Regions from separate parts of the Homo sapiens genome. Here region 1 is linked to region 2. The links come from fine-mapping of genetic effects on gene expression. A gene starts in region 2. The other region holds a variant in brackets. All regions are shown on one strand. Distances are from middle to middle.

The links. PIP is the estimated chance that this variant, and not a neighbour inherited with it, causes the effect.
Region 1: its variant is fine-mapped to the expression of TGFBR2 in whole blood (TOPMed, PIP above 0.99).

The regions. Positions count from the first base shown.
Region 1 is chr3:30,625,598-30,636,496 of GRCh38, forward strand. All of the region lies in intron 1 of TGFBR2 (transforming growth factor beta receptor 2), which reads left to right. It also overlaps the pseudogene KLHL25P1. Among named protein-coding and RNA genes, the nearest start is that of TGFBR2, 24 kb to the left of the region's middle. The variant G/A (reference allele first, on the strand shown) is at 5,412.
Region 2 is chr3:30,600,803-30,611,701 of GRCh38, forward strand. It overlaps TGFBR2 (transforming growth factor beta receptor 2), which reads left to right and starts at 5,799. Exons shown (of 7, transcript NM_003242.6): 1 at 5,799-6,175. The coding sequence starts at 6,082. It overlaps LOC105377015 (translation initiation factor IF-2-like), which reads right to left and starts at 6,122. Exons shown (of 2, transcript XM_047449400.1): 1 at 5,344-6,122; 2 at 3,597-4,756. The coding sequence starts at 6,122. The coding sequence ends at 5,682. RefSeq lists a silencer at 5,873-5,972.

The DNA of each region.
Region 1 (10,899 bases), 25 kb after region 2:
AAAATCCACACTTAAAAATTAATCTAAAATTATTTTTCAGGAAGAATTTATACAATGGCAACTAAATGCCCTGCAGCCAATTATGTTTATGATTCCTGCCTCATCTCCAAATGGTACTAGAGTTTGAGTCATATGAGAAAATTAATTGGGTTGGGCTTGATTGTACATGTATATGTATATAATAATGTTCTGGTTATAATGCAGTTTGCAGTTTTTCTAGTTACAGCTCAAGGCAAAGATGAGAAGCAACACCTATGGGCCTGACTGCCTCTGTCCAGTACTACCATGCCCCATCTCTAACTACTACATTTTTTCCTATTGAATTCTCCAGTCCATGTAGCATAAGTCCCTTCCTGAACTCAGTTTATTTTTCTAACCCTGGCTGCACGTTAGGATCACCTGCGAACTTCTAAAAGAATTCCAAAGCCTGAGCCAAGCACCTAGAAGTTCTGACTCATTGCCCTGGGGTAGGACTTTGGCATCATTATTGTTTTAAAAGATCCCCAGATGATTCCGATGTGGAACCATGTTGAGAAACACTAATCTAGCCTAACCCAGTGAGGTTACAAATGAAGAATTTCACCAGAGAGGTCAAAGTACTTGATTTCCCACAGCAAAGAAATTCCATTTACTGGGTTGAAAACTCCCATCTGTTGACTTTAAATCCAGCATAACAAATATGAGCAAGGTTTTAGAAGGTTTTGGAAACTCATCTGCAGAACAGAGCAAATACAGGCCTATCTAAAAGCATACCTCACAGTAAAGATGGTTAAAAACCAAAACCGGAGGAGGCAGAGTACTCTTGGTGGGGCTGGTAGTGGGGGGAATGGATGATTTTCCAAAAGAGAAAACACTTGACCTGGGTCTGAAAGGCTGGGTATGATTTAAGGCAGGCACTATTGTTCACTTGTTAGCCCCAGGGCCATGCTACTCCACTTCCTTCAAGGAAACAGAGGGAAGCCGGCAAGTGGCTGCCTGGGGTGTGTGTCCACACACCATATAGAGGCAGTTCTTCAGCTCTGTCAGCCATGGCCAAAGCAGGCAGTATTTGAACCACCTTGGACCACTCCTGAGGGGCAGCATCAGACACCAGGCATCCTTTCAGACACCATTCTTGGAGTCTCTTCCCTCCATCACGTAAACCTCACAGCCAACAGTGAAGGCACTGAACTCCTTCCAGGGGCTGAGCAGGCTGCCTTGGGCATGCTCTTCTTGACCTTAAAATCCACCTGATAGATCTGGTAGGGAGGTAGAAATTTTGGTGGTAGGAAAGCCAGCAATTATCAGGTCAAAGGGTTTCTGATAAAAGGAGTTATTCAGCAGAAAGGTAATCAGATTATGGGAGCCTTAAGTGCCAGTTTGGGCTAAATTCTCTGAGTCACTGGCAGATTGTAAGTAGGGGAATGACGTAATAAAACCACTGCAAAGCCAGGAGTTTGTGATGGGAAGATAGGAAATCCCTTTCTTTTTTTCCCACATGGGAAATAAAAATCTAAAGATGTGTGGGGAAGCTCCTTAGAGTGCCAGGACTTTCAGTATCCCCCAATTTATCATTAGGTTCTGTCCAGACCTCGTTCCGCACACAGTAGCCTAGAGACACCTCTGGAATAAGGTGTGACAAAAAACAAGGAAATAAATTTATTAATTTTGGAAAATGCCTTCTTTTTCCTAGGCCTCCCTCATAGACATTTTCCTGACAAGTCCCCACTTCAGGTTTCAGAAAGAGATGCACCATCGTTTGGAATTCTGAAGAAACTCAAGTTTCAATTGAGCTGAGTCTCAGTGGCATGTATTTTATTACATCTAATGCCATTTTAATGTACTTGAAACTGGGGAGATGAGGGCAATTGGTACACATGTGTAAACCACTACAAAAAGTTCACCTGAGTGTAGAAGGTAGCCAGTAGCCTAAAAACCCTGTATTTTGGAGGCTGTTACTTCATAATCTCTATTATGAAATTGGGAAAAATTATGTAATTATCTCTCTAAGATGGTCTTAGATCCACTGTTCAATAGAACTTTCTGCAGAGATGAAAATATCTTATACCTGGGCTGTGTTAAGGTTTAAGGACAGCACTGGTATAAGATATTTTCACCTTTGCAGGAAGTTCTATTGAACAGTGGGTCTGAGACCATCTTAGATGATACATGTGGCTTGAAACGTAGCAGGTGCAAATAAGGAACTGAATTTCAAATATAGATATATTTTTATTTCAGTTAACTTGAATTTAAATAGCCACAGGTGGCTCTTGGGTATCATAATGAATAGGGCAGTTATGGAGCATCATTAAAGTCCCCATTCTTCTCAAGTCCCAAAGAGGTCCGTTCAGGTAATTTCTTAGCACCTATAATCACAGTGGGACAGATTAAATTACTTGTACTTTTCCATTCCTGTGCTTTGGAATTATAGGCTGTTTCTTTGTCCTGGAAACCAGATAGTCTAATGTTTGTGGAAATACTACTTAGTAGTGCACTGCAATTATAATACTTTATTGTAGGAGGATGCAGCCAGGCCTTTTTTTTTTTTTTTTAATCATCTGTGTTTTTAGTTTTAATCTTAAAAGGATTATAAAAATAGTACTGCCTTGTGGGAGAAAAATATGCTTAAAGTCTATGAGCATGGAGTGGTAGGGATTATAAACCGTTACAAACTTCTCCTGGAAATTCTGGGGAAAGGGAAGTTAAAGCGGCCAATAGAAATCTCCTAGGAGAAAACTTGCCCTGAAGGGATGCTTTTAATTGGGTTCAGTATTTATCAGAAGAACCCTGCAAAAGTGGTTTCCCTGAAGGCATTTGGATTTTCCCCTGTGAATAAATTTCACCCACCTTGGTCACCTCTGTGCTGTATTCTCCTAGAAACTCACCTTTATTTGGCATGCTGTGACTTAAATCCTCCAAAAAAAAAAAAAAGCCTTTGAAAAAGCCTGTGGGTTTTTTTTTTTTTTTTTTTTTTTTTCTCTAAAATGTTAATTTCCTTTCTTTAGGCTTGTGTGGGCTTTGACTGGAAACTTAATCTGTGTGCCTGGGCTCTGCATTAGGTTTCAGTCATTGAAATGGGGCTTAATAAGAATTACTTGATACCTTAGGAGTCAGACGAGCCTTACATTTATCTTGGGCTCAGGGATTTGCATTTTGAGAGGTTGTGCCAGCTGACATGAGCCTTTACAGGTTTCAGCTTGTTGCAAACCTAGTTGGGTCCATTTCTCTCACTTCTGAGACCTTTTGCTGCTGCCACTCATAGCTAACGTGTTTTCCATGGAACACTACTCCTTGTCCCTAATTGTCTTCTCTCCCTACCTCAGCAGTGACACTACAGACAGCCAGTCATTTAATACGAGACTCATTCCTTAAGAAGTTGGGATAGAACTTTAATTACACAAGGCATCCAAGCCAGCAGTCAGGGCCCTTTCCAATGCGATTACTTTTCAAGCTCTGCCCTGCTTCTCCTTCCATTTCCCTCTGGGCCTTCGTTTTCAGATCTCCTCAGAAGCCGAGGAACGCAGGTCCTTTTGAATTTCTTTAGATCAGTGTTGTCCTATAGGACTTTCTGCAATGATGAAAGTATCCTGTCTATTCCTGGCCACATGTGGCTATTAAGCACTTGAAAATGGCTGGTCTGACTTGGAACTGAATGTATGATTTCATTTAACTTTAGTTAATTTAAATTTATAAATCCATGTGTCCTCATGGCTACTGTGTAGCTCTATCTAGATTATGCCCTTGACTTTTGAACAATGTGTCTTGGGAGAGTTCTCTTGGCTCTGGCCCTCCACTTTCATGAACCAGCTCCTCCCAGTGGGGAAAGAAGAACTCTCTTTGACTTCAGAACTGACTTCCTTTTATTGCTAAGTTAGACAGGCTAGGCCTTGAGCTTAAAACTCTTCACCAACTGTTTATACCCTCCATACCTGGCCTCAACATGTCCTTTTTTCTCTGTGACTATATCCTTATTCTTTATCCAGCAACAGCAAATATGCATTAATTTTCTGCAGATAAGGTTTCCTTTGGAACTTAAGGAAGAGGTATGAAACTTGGCTTTGGAGGACTTAGGGATAGGAAAGCCATCACCAAGTGTTTATAGAGTACCAACCACCGTGTGCCAGCCAATGTTTGAGATTTGGGGAATACAGAGTGAATTAAAGTCCATGTGTACAAGCTAATAAACAAGATTCTATCAACATGTCAGCAGATAAGTACAGCGCGAGGGTCTGAGAACAATGGTAGATGCTTGTAATTTTAGAAGCGGTTGTCAAGAATGGCATCTTTGATAATGTGATATTTGAGCAGTAATTGGTATGAAATCGGGATGAAGAAGGCAGATCTCTGGGTTAAGCGCATTCTAGTTGGAGGGAACAGCAAGTACAGTGTCCTAAAAACAGACTGTGCTTGTCATTTCCTCCCCTCCTCCCCCATGGTTTCTCATTTTTGCTTCTCTTTCTAAGAGTTACATTTATAGGCATACATTTTTACACTGGACATCACAAGAAATTGAGCGAGTTCACAACTCCACTGGTGCTGGTAAAAAGATTATGCTAAGATGGATAAAAGACTATGAAACATAGTCAAAATGCACTTCTCAGTCACCTCTGGCCATACGATTTTACACATCTGGGTTCTCACCCCAGAATGAGATAGGTTTAATAGATAAGATTCAGTGTGGGGCAAATCTAAGGTGCCAAAGTTAGGTACATACTAGAACTTCCATAAAGAGTTGTCTTAAGAAATAGAAAGCATTATAATTTGACTTTGTAGCCAAAGGTCATTCAAAACATTTCAAAGTTTAGATCACTTATTCCAGTTTTATCTCTAGTACTAAATGTTATTTCAGCACACAAATGTGGTCATTCCCCATGGATGGAAGGAGCCAGCTGTGTTCCAGAACTATGTTGGAAGATTGCACCTTGAAGACTGTGTGCATGGTTCTCATTTTCCATCTTAAAATCACTGCTGGAATCTATCTTGACTTTTCCACAGCCCATTGACAACTGTCATTATGTAAATACTGTCCTTTTTTCTCACCAACTACTGTGGCTGATGTCTCCCCTCCAAAATTTATGTTGAAACTTAATCCCCATTGTGGTGGTATCAAGAGACGGAGATTTGGGGGAAGTGATTAAGTCATGAGTGGATTAGTCCCACATAAAAGGGCTGGAGGTAACCAGCCTGGATCCTTTTGCCCTTCCATTTTCTGCTATGTGATGACACAGTACTGGTCCTCTCTAGAGGACACAGCAACAAAGCACCATCTTGGAAGCAGGAAAGGGGGCTCTTACGAGACATCAGAACTGCCAGTGCCTTGATTTTGGACTTGTCAGCCTCTAGAACTGTGAAAAATTTCTGTCCTTTATAAATCACCCAGTCTCACATATTTTGTATGGCAGCCAAACAGACTAAGTTACCAACCTTAGTGG[G/A]ATTGCTAGGACTTGGAAAGGAGTAGCCTTTTTTTTTTTTTTTTTTTTTTAAATACAGAGTCTTGCTCTGTCGTAAGGCTGGAATGTAGTGGCACAGTCTTGGCCATCTGCAACCTCTGTCTCCTGGGTTCAAGTGATTCTCCTGCCTCAGCCTCCTGAGTAGCTGGGACTACAGGCACGCACCATCAAGCCCTAGCTAATTTTTGTATTTTTAGTAGAGACGGGGTTTCGCCATATTGGCCAGGATGGTCTTGATTTCTTGACCTCGTGATTCACCCACCTCGGCCTACCAGAGTGCTGGGATTACAGGCGTGAGCCACCGTGCCAGGCCGGGAGTAGATATTTTAATCACAGGAGGTAGCATCAGAAAAGTTGCAGCTACTCACCACAAGAGAGACCTTTATGATGTTTACTGCAAATTGCATCAAGGTCATGACAGCAATGAGTAATGCCCAGGAAAGGCGAAGATCAACCTTACACTTTTTCATCTAACTGCACTGTGAGAAAACAAGCAAAATTGCCCAGTTTAAGGGCAGATTCTCAGATTTTGTTTCAAATTTCCTGCCCTTTGTTGTCCTTTCTAGAAGCCTTAACAATACTTGCAACTTCTTTCTTTTTTTTTTTTTTTTTTTTTTACTTCCTCTGCTTGAAAAACATGAAGGGGGAAGTTTCAAAGTGTTTGGTGTTATCTTAGAAACCAAAGTGAATCTGAATGTGTCTTTCTGTCCTTTTTGTGTCATTTTTCAAAATGAAAGGGACCTTTAAGTTCATCATGTCCAACCCATTTGTTTGACTGGTTGGAGAACAGGCACAGAGAGTGGTTGGGTAATTGCCCTTGAACTCAAAGCCCCCTCATGGTCGATTCAGAGCCTTCTCCACTGCAACCTGCTGCCATTCCCAGCATGGTGAATTCTCCTCCAGTAGAAGTCATATAGCAATGTTTTATAATTAACTTTTACGTGAGCAAATGAGCTCCAGGAGAGAAGATTAAGGAATATTGCTTTCCATATATCTGGATGGCCCAGAACACTTTTTAACTAGGTACTTAAAAATCTACTACAATTGTTGTTGCCCATATTCTTCTGTAATTCTTTCATCAGCTGTGAATGAAAGTACAGCAGTTTTATTTCCTTGAAAAGTAAGCCAAACATGATTTTATTTCAATATTTTAGAATTCCACAATCTTAAGACACATCATTGCCTTCCCATCTCTGCATGTCAAACTTACTAATTTTATTAGCATGTTGCGAAATAACACACTAAGTGTCTCAAAGCCAAAGTAGATCAGCTCTCGCCTGATAAATGTGCAGGAGTAAGCAGAGGATTTGAAAATTGAACTGGATTCTCAAGTTACTGCCTGTTTGCCAGACCTATGCTGGTTATGAACAATATTTCAAAACCAGATTATTTGGTTCTAGATCCTAAACACTCTTGGCAACTTTATTGTAACGATGATTGATTCCATTGTATATTTGAAAGCATCAGGGCACAGTGGTAACAAAAAATTATTATATTTCAATTTGTCTATTCATTCAAATTTCCTGAAAGGTTTTTTAGAAGTCATCAAACTGCTACATTCTATTGATGAGTAGGAATAGATTTACCAAACTCATACTTATCTTGTCATTTGTTTCCTGCAATTTTCTTTGGTGTGAGAGAGCATTGCATGGAATGTTACCTTTCTAGCAAGTGAATGCTTGTGTGGCATTTTTTACTGTCTAGAGGATTTTCACAGGTACTTCAAGCATGTTTGCTCTTCATCATGATCCTACATGGGACGATTTCATAAATCAGGAAATGGAGGTTTCAAGAAGTTAAGTGGCCCACAGCTAATACATGTAAGAGCCTGAATTCACACTCAAGTTTTTACCTTAAAACTCTTGGGCTTCACCAAGCTGACCTTATTATATATGTCTCCTAAAATAAGTGAAGTAATTACAAAGAACCAAAGCTTTTGTCTAAGAAACTTATTGCTTCCCCACCCCTTGTATACTTTCTTCAACTCCTAGTAGTCACACCTGTGTCTTTGCCTTGTACTGGAATGTGTGTAAAGTTCTACTCTTAAACTTTTTGATGGAATATCTATTTCATTGTGGAGTATCAGGAAGGATGAGGGCTTGTGTGTCACCATTGGCTTTGTCTTTTATTTGCTTTCTCTCATTGATATGATATGATAAGTTATTTCATCTCTTTGACCCTTAATTTCTCCATCTATAAAATGTTAATGACAAAATTGCATGGTGGTTGTGATAAGTAAATGAAATAATCATCACAGTACTTAATACTGGACTAAGCATTTGGTCTGCATTCGATAAATCATGATCATGGTAATAATAATTATTAACATCACATAGATCTGATTTCTAAAGTAGATGTCCTCTGGCCTTGAACTGAAATGTGATTATACACATTAGAGAATTACATGCATGTTAAAAATATTCATATTAGAGAGTTAAATCATGACTTTTTGCATTCTAGTTAAACCCTAATATTAGAAGAGAGAATTGAATGTGCAGGTGAAATAATCATTAATTGTAAACATTCAGGTGGCCACAGGGGCCTGGCAGGGGAGTAGGTGACATGAAGGAGTGTCAGGGAGGAGGCAAATTTGAGGACACAGAGACTTTCTCAAGAGGAGCATCTCAGCTCACAGTCAGCTGACTGTTGTCTTGGGATGGTGTGGGCCCACTGTTTCCAAGTCTTTTTTATTTCTTTAAGTGGAATTAGAAAACCAGTTTTGCATGTGAAATCTCTGAATTTTAAAACTTGGTTTATATTTTAAAAAGAAAAGAGTTCAGGCCAAACAGAACACATCTGTGCTCTGTGTCCAGCTCTTGTACCCACTGTAGCAATTTCTGCTTTAGCTTCTCAGTCTGTGCCCAAGTTATTTGGTTGTTAGAAACCAAGCGCCTTGGACCTCGTTATATTACTTTTTAAAGGGATGCCTTTCCCAAATATGGTAGTACTCTGGCCCTTTTCCAGAGAAAATATGGAAATCATCTGTTTTGACCAATATTTTCACATGTTTAATAAAACTGTAATTGAAAAACCTTTCAGGTACCAGGCATGCACAAGAACCCCGCAGCATATTTTGAAAAACTGAAGCAAAAGCCTCCACGGAGAAATTTATCAGTGAAAATTCTGCTCTCACAGAACATTGATATTCGGACCAAATCCCATGCTTAGTTGAGGCAAATGGTTCATTTCAGGGGCTGATTTTTCAGATTCTCTAATAGTCACTATCTTTTAAAAATCTGTTCTTACCAGATTTTGTGTTAGTTTCTGCATTTTCCATTAAGCTGCCTCAGTACTTTGAGATAAAGAATTGTTTAAATCCTAAATGAATAACTTAATTAAAAAGCACATCTTCATTTAGACCATCCTTATTTCCAAAGCTCTTTTGATGAAAATCATTTCGTGCATTTTTAAAAATTCCCTAGAAGAACTTAAAGATCTTGAGGAAAGGACCATGTCTTATCCTGTCCCCCTTCCCTCAAGGGTTTAAATATGAGGGCTGTCAGAAAGCAGCACATTTTCGTTTAGGTTGACTAATTTTGCTGGTAAGTAACAAATTACTTTAGTTGAATTGGAATGTTGTAAAACTCCGTCAGTCGTGTATCATTATCTTGCCTCTATCAGTCTGTGCCATTTACCAATGTTTTGACCATCACCAAGAGAGTTATTTAATCATCTTTTATTTTCAATAATAAATTATTTCCTTGTTGCTACAGCACTCCAAGTCCTGTCAACTGAGGGAGAATTGTTTTCTCAGTTGCTGTCACTTTAGGTAAAGTACCAACTTTAAAGCACTTCTCAGCAGAGGCATAAAGTTATTATTTTGAGAGTTCATGAAATAGTGCTCCATTCTACTCTTTCACTTGATCTAATATACCATTTGCATTTATATGGCTTAACTTTTTTAACTGGCTTCCTGTTCTTCTCAGCCCCAAACCCTACATTCTGGTTTTTGACTCATCTCATAGTCCCTGCAGTCAGTCTTTGCCAGATAAAGGCACTGTTAAAGTGAGCTTTATCAATGAAAAACTTAAGAATTTCATGTATTGATGACAGTATTTACTATAAACTGCTTGCTTCTCCCCAGCTTTCAGAAATTTGTTTTATTCACTGGGTCCTATTAGAGCTGAAAGAGCATGATTGAGAAAGTTACAATTGTTTCAGCTTTTTGAATATGGCACAAGTGCTAGAATTCTGAAATACTGCCTTTGGCAACAATGTGTAGATATTTCCACCTGCAAGAGTCATTTTAAATGTTTAGATTTTGTCTCCTGTTATGTGGCCTGTATCTCAGAGAGGTCCCCTGCCACTAAAAACAAAAACAAACAAAAAACAGAAAAATAAATGAAAATTCAGCAAGCGTTGGGGGGACTCAAATTGTACTTCATTCTTCAATGATACAAGAAAGCAAGAAAACCAAGTATGCATTTTTAGGATTTATTTGGGGTCATTGGGGCTGGTAAGTGTTAAATAGGAAAGGATGCAATTGAAATTCCAGCTCAGTTATTTTATGTTTGTCACTGGAGAAAGCCAATTATTTTTCCGTTCAGCTACAGCTTGTTTCATTCCGTAGAAGACTAAAAAAACTTCCTTGTAAATTGCATTTAAAAAAATTTGAGTTTAAAGGTACAGCCAAGATTTCAATTTAAAGTACCTCATTGGATGAATTCATTTGAGACACAAGTAATCATTCCTTAATCCCTTAATTTGTTTGGTAAATACAAATTTATGTTTATGCAGTTTTCTTAAAGCAATCATAGCAAACTACTAAATTCATGAGCCAAAATGCTAGTGAAACTCAAACCTACAAAGCTAAATTCCCTCAGTTGAACAAGTCCAAATGAGGAAATCACACACATAAATGCATAAACACACACACTCACACACACACTTCCCGTATCAGCTCTGTCTCCATTTCTGACCTCATGTTTGCATTTAAAGGCAAGTAACTGATTCACATGAGGTTGCCGTTGTTAATGTTGCCTCTCAAACTAGAATATAAGCCATAGGAGGGTAGGGACCAACCTGGTGTTTGTTTTAGATGTCTTGTTGTGTGGAGAGTATCCCAGACATTTGATATCCTTAATTGTTGGCCAGATGGTAGGTAGTTTCAGTGTGAAAATATATATGTATGTGTGTGTGTGTGTGTGTGTGTGTGTGTGTGTGTGTGTGTGTGTATAGTACTGGGATTACAGGCGTGAGCCACCGCACCCGGCCCGTACTAGGTATTTTACTAGAATTATTTCCTGCTCTAAGAGATTTTAGAGTATTGATTATGTCATTCTTGACAGGTTTTAAAAACTATATTAGTATTACAAAAACATGTGCATGAAAAGGAAAATTGATGCTTTTGAGCTTATCTCTTTATTTTCTGCCCACATGGTGGTCTCCCTATTAGGTATTGTTTCTCCACTTCTGATCCTGGTGCCCAGAGGCTATGTGGGGCTGTCACTTGAATGAAAGCTGCATGCAT
Region 2 (10,899 bases):
AATTGGCACTAATGGTCAATGTCACTCCCACTACATTCTGGTGAAAGGAAGTTACAAAGCTAGTGCAGATTCAAGGAGAGGGAAAATAGACTCCATCCCACCTATTATTATGCAGAATAATGTGTGAGTACAGTGAAAAAAGGAGGCGATGGTGGCCATCTTTACAGACTATCCACCATACTCAAATAATGTCTACATTGAGGTAGTTGCTGATAATGATTCAGTGGTTCTACTCTGATACTTTTGGCCTTCCTCTCATTGTTGAAAGGTGATTGGAGTATTTCCAACTGTTTTATCCTCTTCCAATTATGTTCAAAGCTAGGAAACAGGTGAGTCCTTTTCCTTAGGCACTTCTTTCTTATCAGGTAGAAAAAAAATTTCCCACAAGCCCCCATCAGATTTCTTCTTGCAGCGCTTTGACCGGACCTGGATTACATACCCACCCTTAGACAAGGATGGGCCTTTTCCTTAAGAGGAGCTGCATCCAAATCCTAAACAAAATTAGTGAACTAATGGCAAGATGGGAGAGAGAGTGGATTTTAAGTAAACAAGGAATGGAGGAATGGTGTTGGTCATTTTCTTTTTAAATTTTTTTTTCTTTTTTTTTTTTGAGACAGAGTCTTGCTCTGTCGCCCAGGCTAGAGTGCAATGGCGTGATCTTGGCTCACTGCAAGCTCCACCTCCCGTGTTCAAGCGATTCTCCTGCGTTAGCCTCCCAAGTAGCTGGGATTACAGGTGTGTGCCACCACGCTCAGCTAATTTTCGTATTTTTAGTAGAGACAGGGTTTCACAATGTTGGTCAGGCTGGTCTCGAAATCCTGACCTCATGATCTGCCTGCCTCGGCCTCCCAAAGTGCTGGAATTACAGGCATAAGCCAGCATGCCCGGCCCATATTCTTTAACTGTATGTACAATTTAATTTGTAGATGATCCTAAAAGTCTAAATTGGAGTCCTACTGTCTTCCTCATCTTCAGCCCCCATAACAAACCTCATGATAGTTTTTGTCTATAAGAACCCCTTTGTAGTTTTACCACCTGCAAATTATTTAACCTTGCTTTTCCGTGATTCCTCACCCTTCACATCCCTTATATCTCTTAGCTATTGCCTCAAAAATTCTGGATAACAAACCAACCCAAATTTTTCCTTAAACGGCATTTACTTATTCTTACTCAGACTCATATGGATTGGCTAGAGGTAGGCTTGAGATTGGCTGATGGAGGTCTGGCTTAGATTCAATCAGGAGGTTGGTCCACATCTGTTCCACATGTCTCTCCTCCTCCCTGCATTTGCTGGTCTTTAAGTGCCTTCAACTGAAAATAATCAGTATACCAAAGCAGCATATTTTGGAGTGGCATTTCCTGAAATCCTTCACTGGTCAGGTGGCGAAGATCAACCACCTGATCAATTTGTTCTAGAGTGTAGAACAAGTCTGGAACTAGACAGGACTAAGTTCAAATCTGGGCTCTGTCTTTTACTAGCTATGTGACCTTTGTCAAATACTTAATCTCTTTAATCCTCAAATTCTTCATTTGTAAAGGGAAGATTAGAATAGTACTGCAAGGACATGCTCCAAAATTTAACAAGGATTATCTTTGGATAATAGGGTTAAGAATCCTTTTAAAGTCTGCCTTTAAAAAAAAAATCTAAATTTCCTACCTATAATTAACACGTATTACCCTTGTAATTTTCAAAAAGTTATTTTTTTCAAAACATACTATTGATGCTTTCTGTAAACATGTGGCATAATTGCAGGTTCTATTAATATCTGTGAAGAACTGCAAACAAGAGAATGGATTAGGAAAACTGATATTCTTATTTTTCTCTCTATTGAAGACAAGAAACACACACTGAATACTGATTATCTGTAGAGCACGGAGTGTGGTTCTACATTGAAAAAGGAATATTTTGTGCTTTTAAGGGCTTTACAATCATTAGGGTAGAATTCTAAAAAGCAAATAAATAACAATAATGTACTCCATGTTAGAATGGGGCAAACATTTTTTTTTAAAAAAAGGCTAAATAAACGAAATGTTCCCTGGGTTATCCCTGGGAAAGGAGTGATCACAGTAGGTGAAGCATCACAAAATATTTCCTGGAGGAGGTAGCATCATGGATGACCCACAAAGGGTGGATGACCCTCACAAATTAACTACAGTCTCAGTGCTTATTGGTTTGCTTCACAATAAAAGGAAAATTGGTCAAGAGATAAGAGCTGAGAATGAGGCTGGTTAATTTATAAGGAGAGGAATCTCCCTGTTAACTGCTCTAGCTGACAGTAACCTCAACAGCTGCATGTCACAAAGCTCAGGGGAGTAGGAAGTTCTTCTCTCATCACAACTGAGAAACCCAACGTTTAAATAAACCACAATTTGATTCAGTTCAATTGTGTGTGTTTGTGTGTGCGTGCAGAGTTTAAAAAGCTGGTAAAATAGATTGTCAGCTTTTAAAATTTCTGTTCAAGTTGATATTTATTGTTTTTCAACTCATTAAGGGCTTAAACGTTACCTTCCTTGTTTTTTAAACCCTGAGTCGGGCTATTATTTTTTTGTTCCCATTTGCAAATGGCCCAGTTTTTTACATGTATATATTAACTGCTTATGTGAATACACAAAATATTATACTAAGCCAAATATACAACTATGTGTGAAAATGATGTCTTGATTAAGGGTATCAGACATCCCTTTCAACAAGAATTTCAAAAGGAAGGGCATCATGACAATTTTTTTTTCTTTTTCTTTTATTTATTTTTTGTTTTTGAGACAGGGTCTCATTCTGTCTTCTAGGCTGAAGTGCAGTGGCACAATCATGGCTCACTGCAGCGTTCGTCTCCTGGGCTCAAGTGATTCTCCCACCTCAGCCTCCTGAGTAGTTGGCACTATAGATACATGCCAACATGCCTGGCTTTTTTTTTTTTTTTTTTTTTTTTAGTAAAGATGAAATCTCACTATGTTGCTTAGGCTGGTCTCGAACTCCTGGGCTCAAGTAATCCTCCCATCTAGACCTCCCAAAGTGCTGGGATTACAGGTGTGGACCACTGCACTCAGCCTGATGAATTTTTAAAATTATCAAATTGCAATATGCATGAGTTTACACATCTATTATTTTTATTATGATGATTTTCAAAAGGCTAGCTTGCACTTGGCAATGCTGAATTCTGATTCTTCTCAATTTCACAGGAGACTGGAGATTAAATCAGAAATGTTAAGGGCAAACAAAATTAAAATCAACATTAATGATGTATCATGGCAAAGACCACCAGTTAAACATTCCACCATAGATTTAAATATCTAGCCTCCAACAATGTAAAACATCTTTGTGATAATTAAGGAAAACAAAGCTTTTGGAATCTATTGGACATTTATTTGCCACATTGTGTTTTCAGGAGAAAGAAAGTACATGTTTGCTATCTGGAGGAACTTGGGCAAATGTAGGAAAAAAAAAAGAAGAAGAAAGAAACCCACATACTTCTCCATTCTTAAGAAAAGGAAGTAGTGGTGACATCATTCTCGGCTAAAATGTAGTCTGTTTATATCTCAAATATTCGGTAACAATGTTTTCTCCAGAGTTATGAAGCAACTAGAACAATCAAATACAATTTTCTTCTAAATCTTTATTGCCTGATTCATTCATTCATCCAACAAATATTTATTAAACATCGATTATGTGTTTGATGCTTAGGGACACAATAGTAAGTGGAGGGAAAGATACATAATACCTGCCCTCAAGAAATTTGGAGTTGAGTGGAGGATAGAAATATAAATTAAAGAATGACACAAATAATTATAAAGTTACAGCTGTTAAAAGAAAAGCATATGGTGCCAAGAGAACGTGTAATACAAGATCTACTCATGGAGGTGAGGGAAAGCTTGCCCATCAAAGAAGTTATGATTCAATCCACGAAGACCAGGAGTTGGCTGGGTGAAGAAAAAAAGGTCAGAGGAAGGAAGTCCACACTGGGGAAGGCTCTAAGCATAAAGGGTAGGAGGATTACAGAGGCATATTCACGAAATTTGGAGAAGGCTTTCAGTAAGCAAGGAGAAGCCAAATGAAAGTTTACGGGAGAGTTGGAGGCTTGAAGACACGTTCAAGGATCTGGTTTTTATCTTCTCTTTATCTCAAGAGCAGTGGGAAGCCATTAAATGATTTTAATCAGAGGGTTGGTATAACTAGTTTTGTATTTTGAAAAGCTGAATTCAGCTCTCGTTTGAGAAACTGAGTGAAAGAGCCCAGAACGGCCGTGGCTGAGGGTGACTCGTGGGAGACTCCTACACAAGCCATGGCAGTGGCATGGGCTGGTGGCAGAAGAGGGAATAGGGAGAAGATTTGGAACTCAATCTTCCTCCATTGACAAAGTCACTCCAGCTTTGGCAAGGCAATTAATTGGTGGGAAAGAAGATGCCTAGCCCTCCTGATTTCACTGCACTTTCTGCATCTTCAACATGAGTACTGGGAAGTGGCAAAACATCCAGAGGCAGCTTGGGTGCTAGGTGGAGCATGAGTTAAAATTCCAGGATGAAGCAAATGAACACTTAGAATGACAGGAAAGATTTGGGAGTTGGGTTTGGGGGAGGGCTATTTACCTTTATTCCCTGGAGACCCTGGCACAAACCCTTGCCTCTGCAATCTTCCTCTCAGGTAAAGGAATTCATTAAATGAATTGCTAGAAGATCTACTGACCAGAGGGCTGTACAGAATCATATCTTTGAGAGTGGGAAGTAGGTTGATCACATAGTTTATTATCCAATCAGGACATATCTGAAAGAGAAAGGGGGTTCTATTAATATTTAAACTACAAAACATGTACACCAGGAATGTCTTGGGCAAATCTGGTTGCCCTAGCAAGAAAGGAAATTTGAAAGTTTATACTGTTCTGCTCCCATGTTACCCCGTTTGCACATGAGAGGGTAAGTATTCTCTTTCTTCACCTGCATTAAGGGAATAAAAGCACAAGCATTCAGGTGACTCCCAACCCACTTTTAATTTTACAGTTTCTGCTATACTCTATACATTCTGAAAATTACATTTCCCACCACTATCACTTCGTGATAGGTGATCATTTACAATTACTCACTGACTCAGTCCCGGGAAGAGGCGGTGCAAAATGGGACGCTCTATCCAGGTGCTCATTAGAAATGCAGAATCTCTGCCTGCCTCCTAGACCTACTGAATTAGAATCTGCATTTTTAAATAAGATTTCCAGGTGATCAATATGTACATTAAAACTTGAGAAAAACCTCTAGACTTCGACCTAAAGAAAAACATTTTACAACTTGACAGTGTATGCACATACATACATGCATATAGACACAACTGAAGCACAAATTTAATGAAGTAGAATTTACCGTTACTATTTTATTTGGGAAAGAAATGTGCTCGCGACTCAATAGATTGGAGTATTCACTCCTGGATCTCAACTTGCAATTTGAAAACGCATCTCTAAAGCACCTAGGAGCAATCTGAAGAAAGCTGAGGGGAGGCGGCAGATGTTCTGATCTACTAGGGAAAACGTGGACGTTTTCTGTTGTTACTTTGTGAACTGTGTGCACTTAGTCATTCTTGAGTAAATACTTGGAGCGAGGAACTCCTGAGTGGTGTGGGAGGGCGGTGAGGGGCAGCTGAAAGTCGGCCAAAGCTCTCGGAGGGGCTGGTCTAGGAAACATGATTGGCAGCTACGAGAGAGCTAGGGGCTGGACGTCGAGGAGAGGGAGAAGGCTCTCGGGCGGAGAGAGGTCCTGCCCAGCTGTTGGCGAGGAGTTTCCTGTTTCCCCCGCAGCGCTGAGTTGAAGTTGAGTGAGTCACTCGCGCGCACGGAGCGACGACACCCCCGCGCGTGCACCCGCTCGGGACAGGAGCCGGACTCCTGTGCAGCTTCCCTCGGCCGCCGGGGGCCTCCCCGCGCCTCGCCGGCCTCCAGGCCCCCTCCTGGCTGGCGAGCGGGCGCCACATCTGGCCCGCACATCTGCGCTGCCGGCCCGGCGCGGGGTCCGGAGAGGGCGCGGCGCGGAGGCGCAGCCAGGGGTCCGGGAAGGCGCCGTCCGCTGCGCTGGGGGCTCGGTCTATGACGAGCAGCGGGGTCTGCCATGGGTCGGGGGCTGCTCAGGGGCCTGTGGCCGCTGCACATCGTCCTGTGGACGCGTATCGCCAGCACGATCCCACCGCACGTTCAGAAGTCGGGTGAGTGGTCCCCAGCCCGGGCTCGGCGGGGCGCCGGGGGTCTTCCTGGGGTCCCCGCCTCTCCGCTGCGCTTGACAGTCGGGCCCGGCAACCCGGCCCCCGGGCGGAAACGAGGAAAGTTTCCCCCGCGACACTCACGCAGCCCGACTCCCGTAGCTGCAGGGATTGTGAGTTTTTCTTGAAAAAGAGAAGGAAAGTTCAGTTGCAAGGGGCGCGGGGCACGTTTGGTCCCCTTTGTGCGAGCAGGAAAGGCGTTGTGTTGGCCGCGTTCGAGGCGAGCCCCCACCCCCGGAAAGGGAAGTTTGAGAAGTTGGTTATCTGAAGGCGGCCGGGGAGCAGCGGCCCGGAGCGGCAGCCTGAGCTGCCAAAGCAGCCAGCGCACCTGGGCCACTCCGCCCATGGCGATGCCGCGTGCCCACCCAGCTCTTTCTGAGCCACCCGTTCAAAAGGCCAGCTCCTCAGTCCTTAGCTCCTGGAGACGGCCACGCTTTCCCTCAGGCCGGCTTCTTGGCCCGGAGTTTTTGGAAACAAGTTTCAAGAAAATAATCGATTTCCAAAAGAAAGTTAGCTGGCTCCACTGACGCCTTGGCATGGATGGATAGGGAGTGGAGATGCTCAGGTGAAACCGAGAATCCCTCACTGAATGCCTACTGGGTGCTAGAGGCTGTAGATTTTGCCTGGAACAAGATAGTCCTGTCTTCAGGGAGTTGATGGTTCTATGCAATTATCGTTTGTTGGAAACCGAAGGGTTAAAATCCTAACTAGGCTACCCACCTGATCGCTGTCTCTGAAGGTTTTTAAGGAAAAAATAAAAATAAAAAAATATATATATATATTATATATATATAAATATATATATAATTATATATATAAATATATATAATATTAATATATATATGCATGCAGGAATGGGGGTTCTTAACTATTTGTTATGGAAAGTGTAAAACCTCTGAGACTTCAAAAGTTAGATTTTTTTTTTTTGGAGACGGAGTCTCGCTCTGTCACCAGGCTGGAGTGCAGTGGCGCAATCTCGGCTCACTGCAACTTTGCCTCTGGGTTCAAGCGATTCTCCTGCCTTAGCCTCCCGAGTAGCTGGGATTACAGGCGCGTGCCACCACGCCCAGCTAATTTTTGTATTTTTAGTAGAGACGGGGTTTCACCATATTGGCCAGGGTGGTCTCGATCTCTTGACCTCGTGATCCGCCCACCTTGGCCTCCCAAAGTGCTGGGATTACAGGCGTGAGCCACCGCGCCCGGCCAAAAGTTAGACTTTTTGCAGCTATGATCCAAATAACAGTATCTGCAGCTGTGGTCTGGGTAACCGAGTATTTGGGCAAGTCATAGAGCTTTTTCTGGGCCTTAGTTTCCTCATCTGTAAAATGGCCAGCTTGAATCTGGGTAATTTTACATCATCTTCATGTTTAACATCTTACGTATCGTGCCCCTCCCCTCCTTTCCCCTGGCTCTTCTGGTGACTTGGAGATGACCCATGTAGACTTTGGATGAAATGTAGAGGAGTTGACAGTCCACATCACCCGGAGGCACTCATTTTATTTATCCAGGGACATGGGCAGATTTACCTTTAGGTTTGTCTAGAAAAAATGCGCATCACGGTCAGTTGTAAATTTTAGAGTGTTTGAAGTGGATTGGGAACTTTTTAAAAATTATGGCATACATTGAAGGTGGCATGGAGATGGAAGCTTTTAATCAAATTAGGAAGAGGCACTATTGCAAGCAAAAAGTCTTGACACACATTTGAGTCCTATGGTTTTAATAAAATCTTAGTGTTTCGTTCTTGGCGTTTTTCCTGCATTGCAGTACCAGAATGTTCAATTGTCTCTCATTTTCCTCCAGACTTTTAAAACCTAAGTGACATTTTGCTAATAAATATTTAAAATGGCACCCTTAATTTTCTGTGGATGTTAAAAATCATTACAACTTTTGTTCCAGATTATAAAAGAAGGAAATTAGCAGGCCCTGATGTTGTTAGTTAGGTTCTGTTTACAAGGATAAGGTTTATGATTTGCAAATTCCAGACCCAATAGTTCACGAGTCACTTTCATTTCATCAATATACACACTTTTAAACAATTAGCTTAAAAACGTGGTGGCTTTTTATTTGGGTATTTAGACAGTTTTACAAGGCCCACAGATTTCATATTTTTATAGAACTGAAGTTTCAAAATGGTTGAATTAATGAATCATTTTGAATTTGTATTCATTTGATTCAAATTAAATTTTCAAAGTTGGCCAATGGTTGAAGACAGATATATTGAAGACGAGAAACCTAATTCTACTTACATTTTAATTTTTCATGTAAGTAAATAGTTTCAGAATTTCTCTAACGTAATTGGTAAACTGAAAACATTTTTTCAAAATATCTTAATGCAAGATAATATATCAGGTAATGAGATTGTTTAATAAACAACAAGCTCCTTTTACGTCACCTAAAAAGGCCCAAAAATCTGTCTTCTGTTTAGTAGCTTCTGTACTTCTGTTTAGTAGTATGCAAAGGATTTAAATAAAAGAACAAATTTCACTAAGAAATAGAAAGTTTTTTTTTCTTCGTTTTTGACTTAATAGATTCACTCTTCCTAAATGATCAAAATTAAGAAATGACTCTTTTGGGGAAAACTGTAAAGTGCACAATAACTCTTCAGGTCTGAAAAATATGACTTTTCAGGTTCCTGGAAGTAGATAGATTCTTATTGAGGACAAAGAATTTGTAAAAGTGTCATAGTGATCAGGTTCTTCACATCACTTTAATAACCTGCTTATTTTGTCAGGGTAAGAGACTAGACATCATTAGGCCCCAAATCTGATCTTCAGTCTACTCGTGCTTTTTTTCCGCCTCATAAAAACACATTTCCACCTTTAGGCCACTCAACATCTTATTTTTAATGAGTTATGATTTATACAAAATACTAATCACATTTTGAACTCATTGCCTTCTTTTCAATGTAGCATTCCCTAATGATGACTGTTGTCTATGTAGTCAACATAACTACTACATGTTTTCTACTCAGTTATGAACATGACTTTTTAATTTTTTCAGTAAGGTTAGTTTTTAACTCTGGATCAATAAGGCACCTCTGATATCATTGCAAAAACTGGGCATTTTTTCTTCTACCTTTTCAACCATATTTATTGAGTATCTCTTGCCAGGCAGGATGCTCAGACCTGGGATACCATCTCAGATGAATAAGACAGACCTGGTCTTTGCCATTGAATTTAACAGCTGGGAGCATGTTATAAGTAAAGAAAAGGATACGTGTTTTAACTGTTTATATTTGAAAGCATTATGGAATACTGGTGTTTTATTTTCTACACCTCATTTTCAAAAGCCTCATTTTTTTTTGTTGTTGTATGCACTAGGAGGATGTGCATGTTGAATGTTTCCTTCTAGGTCCCATTGAATGTATTTTTGAATCAATTTGTTGTCTCTTTCCTATCCCTGCCTTGTCACGGAGCCCCAGTTGGGCAGCCTTTAATTGCATTCTCCATTCCATAGCCAGCATGATGGACCCAATGCGTTCATTTAGTGCTCTCTTTGAGGATAGGCTGGTGGTAGAAGAGTGTAGGGTATAAACTTTGGAATCAGGCCGTCCTGGGTTCCAGACCCACTTGCCATGTACTGGCTGTGTAGCCTGTTGTAGTTGCTTTACCTACTAGTCATCCCTGGTCTCATTTGTAAAATGAGGATTATGGAGTTATGGTGAGGATTAAATAAAATATTGTTTTAAAGTATTTAACATGGTGCCTGCAACATAGTAAATGCTCAATAAATATCAGCTTCTGTTATTACTATTAACTCCTTAATTGGGCTTACCAGGGGCCTCTGACCTGGTTCCCATTTGACTCTGCTGCTTCACATCCCACCACAGCCCACATTTTCCCAGTCTATTTGTGTCACTACACATACACACAATGTGAGCAATTTAGGCAGCTGTTCCTTTGTTCAGGATGTCTGGAACTCCTGCTACCTGGCTAATTTTCACTCATCTTTTAAGACGTAGTTCAAGTGTCATCTTCTTGAGGAAACCTGCTTTGAATGTCCCAGTTTGAGGTAAATGTCTCCTATGAGATACAGACCTCTCACTTAGCTGGTAACAATACCAAGCCAAAGTCATATCTTTACGTAACTCTCTTGCCCATTATACCTTTAATCCTCTCAATCTTATTCAGTTTTCTATCTCTGGGATCTCTGGCAGTGCCTGACACATCATTTAGCACCCAGGAAGTGCTGAGCTGAGCCTCCACTTCATCCTACTGTATCTAATGCAACTGAGGTCGAGCATTTAACTAAGCAGTCACTGTTTGTTAGGTGTTTGGTCCAAATAGTAAAATCTTTACTTTCAGTTAGAATAGTTTTAGTTCTGATCACAATAAGTAATTTGACTGTTTTTGAAGTATGGAATTGGTTCTTGTATTCTCATGAAATATGGAAAAAGATGTTTCAACTTCTGACAAACATGATGGAAAGCTGCTAGAAGTTTTCATGCAATTCCTTTAGCCATAAATTTTGAATCAGTGTAGGGCCTTGAAAGCCACTGCAAAATTTTAAATAAAGTCACCAGAGGAATTATCCAGTAGATACTGATTCCTCTTTTTTTTTTTTTTCATAGAAGGGTGTCGGAAAGAGAATTTTATTACGAATGAAGTGCTAAAATCTAAATTTATTTTTTAAGTTTCTTTTTTCATTGGGTTTTATGTTTTGGTTTATAA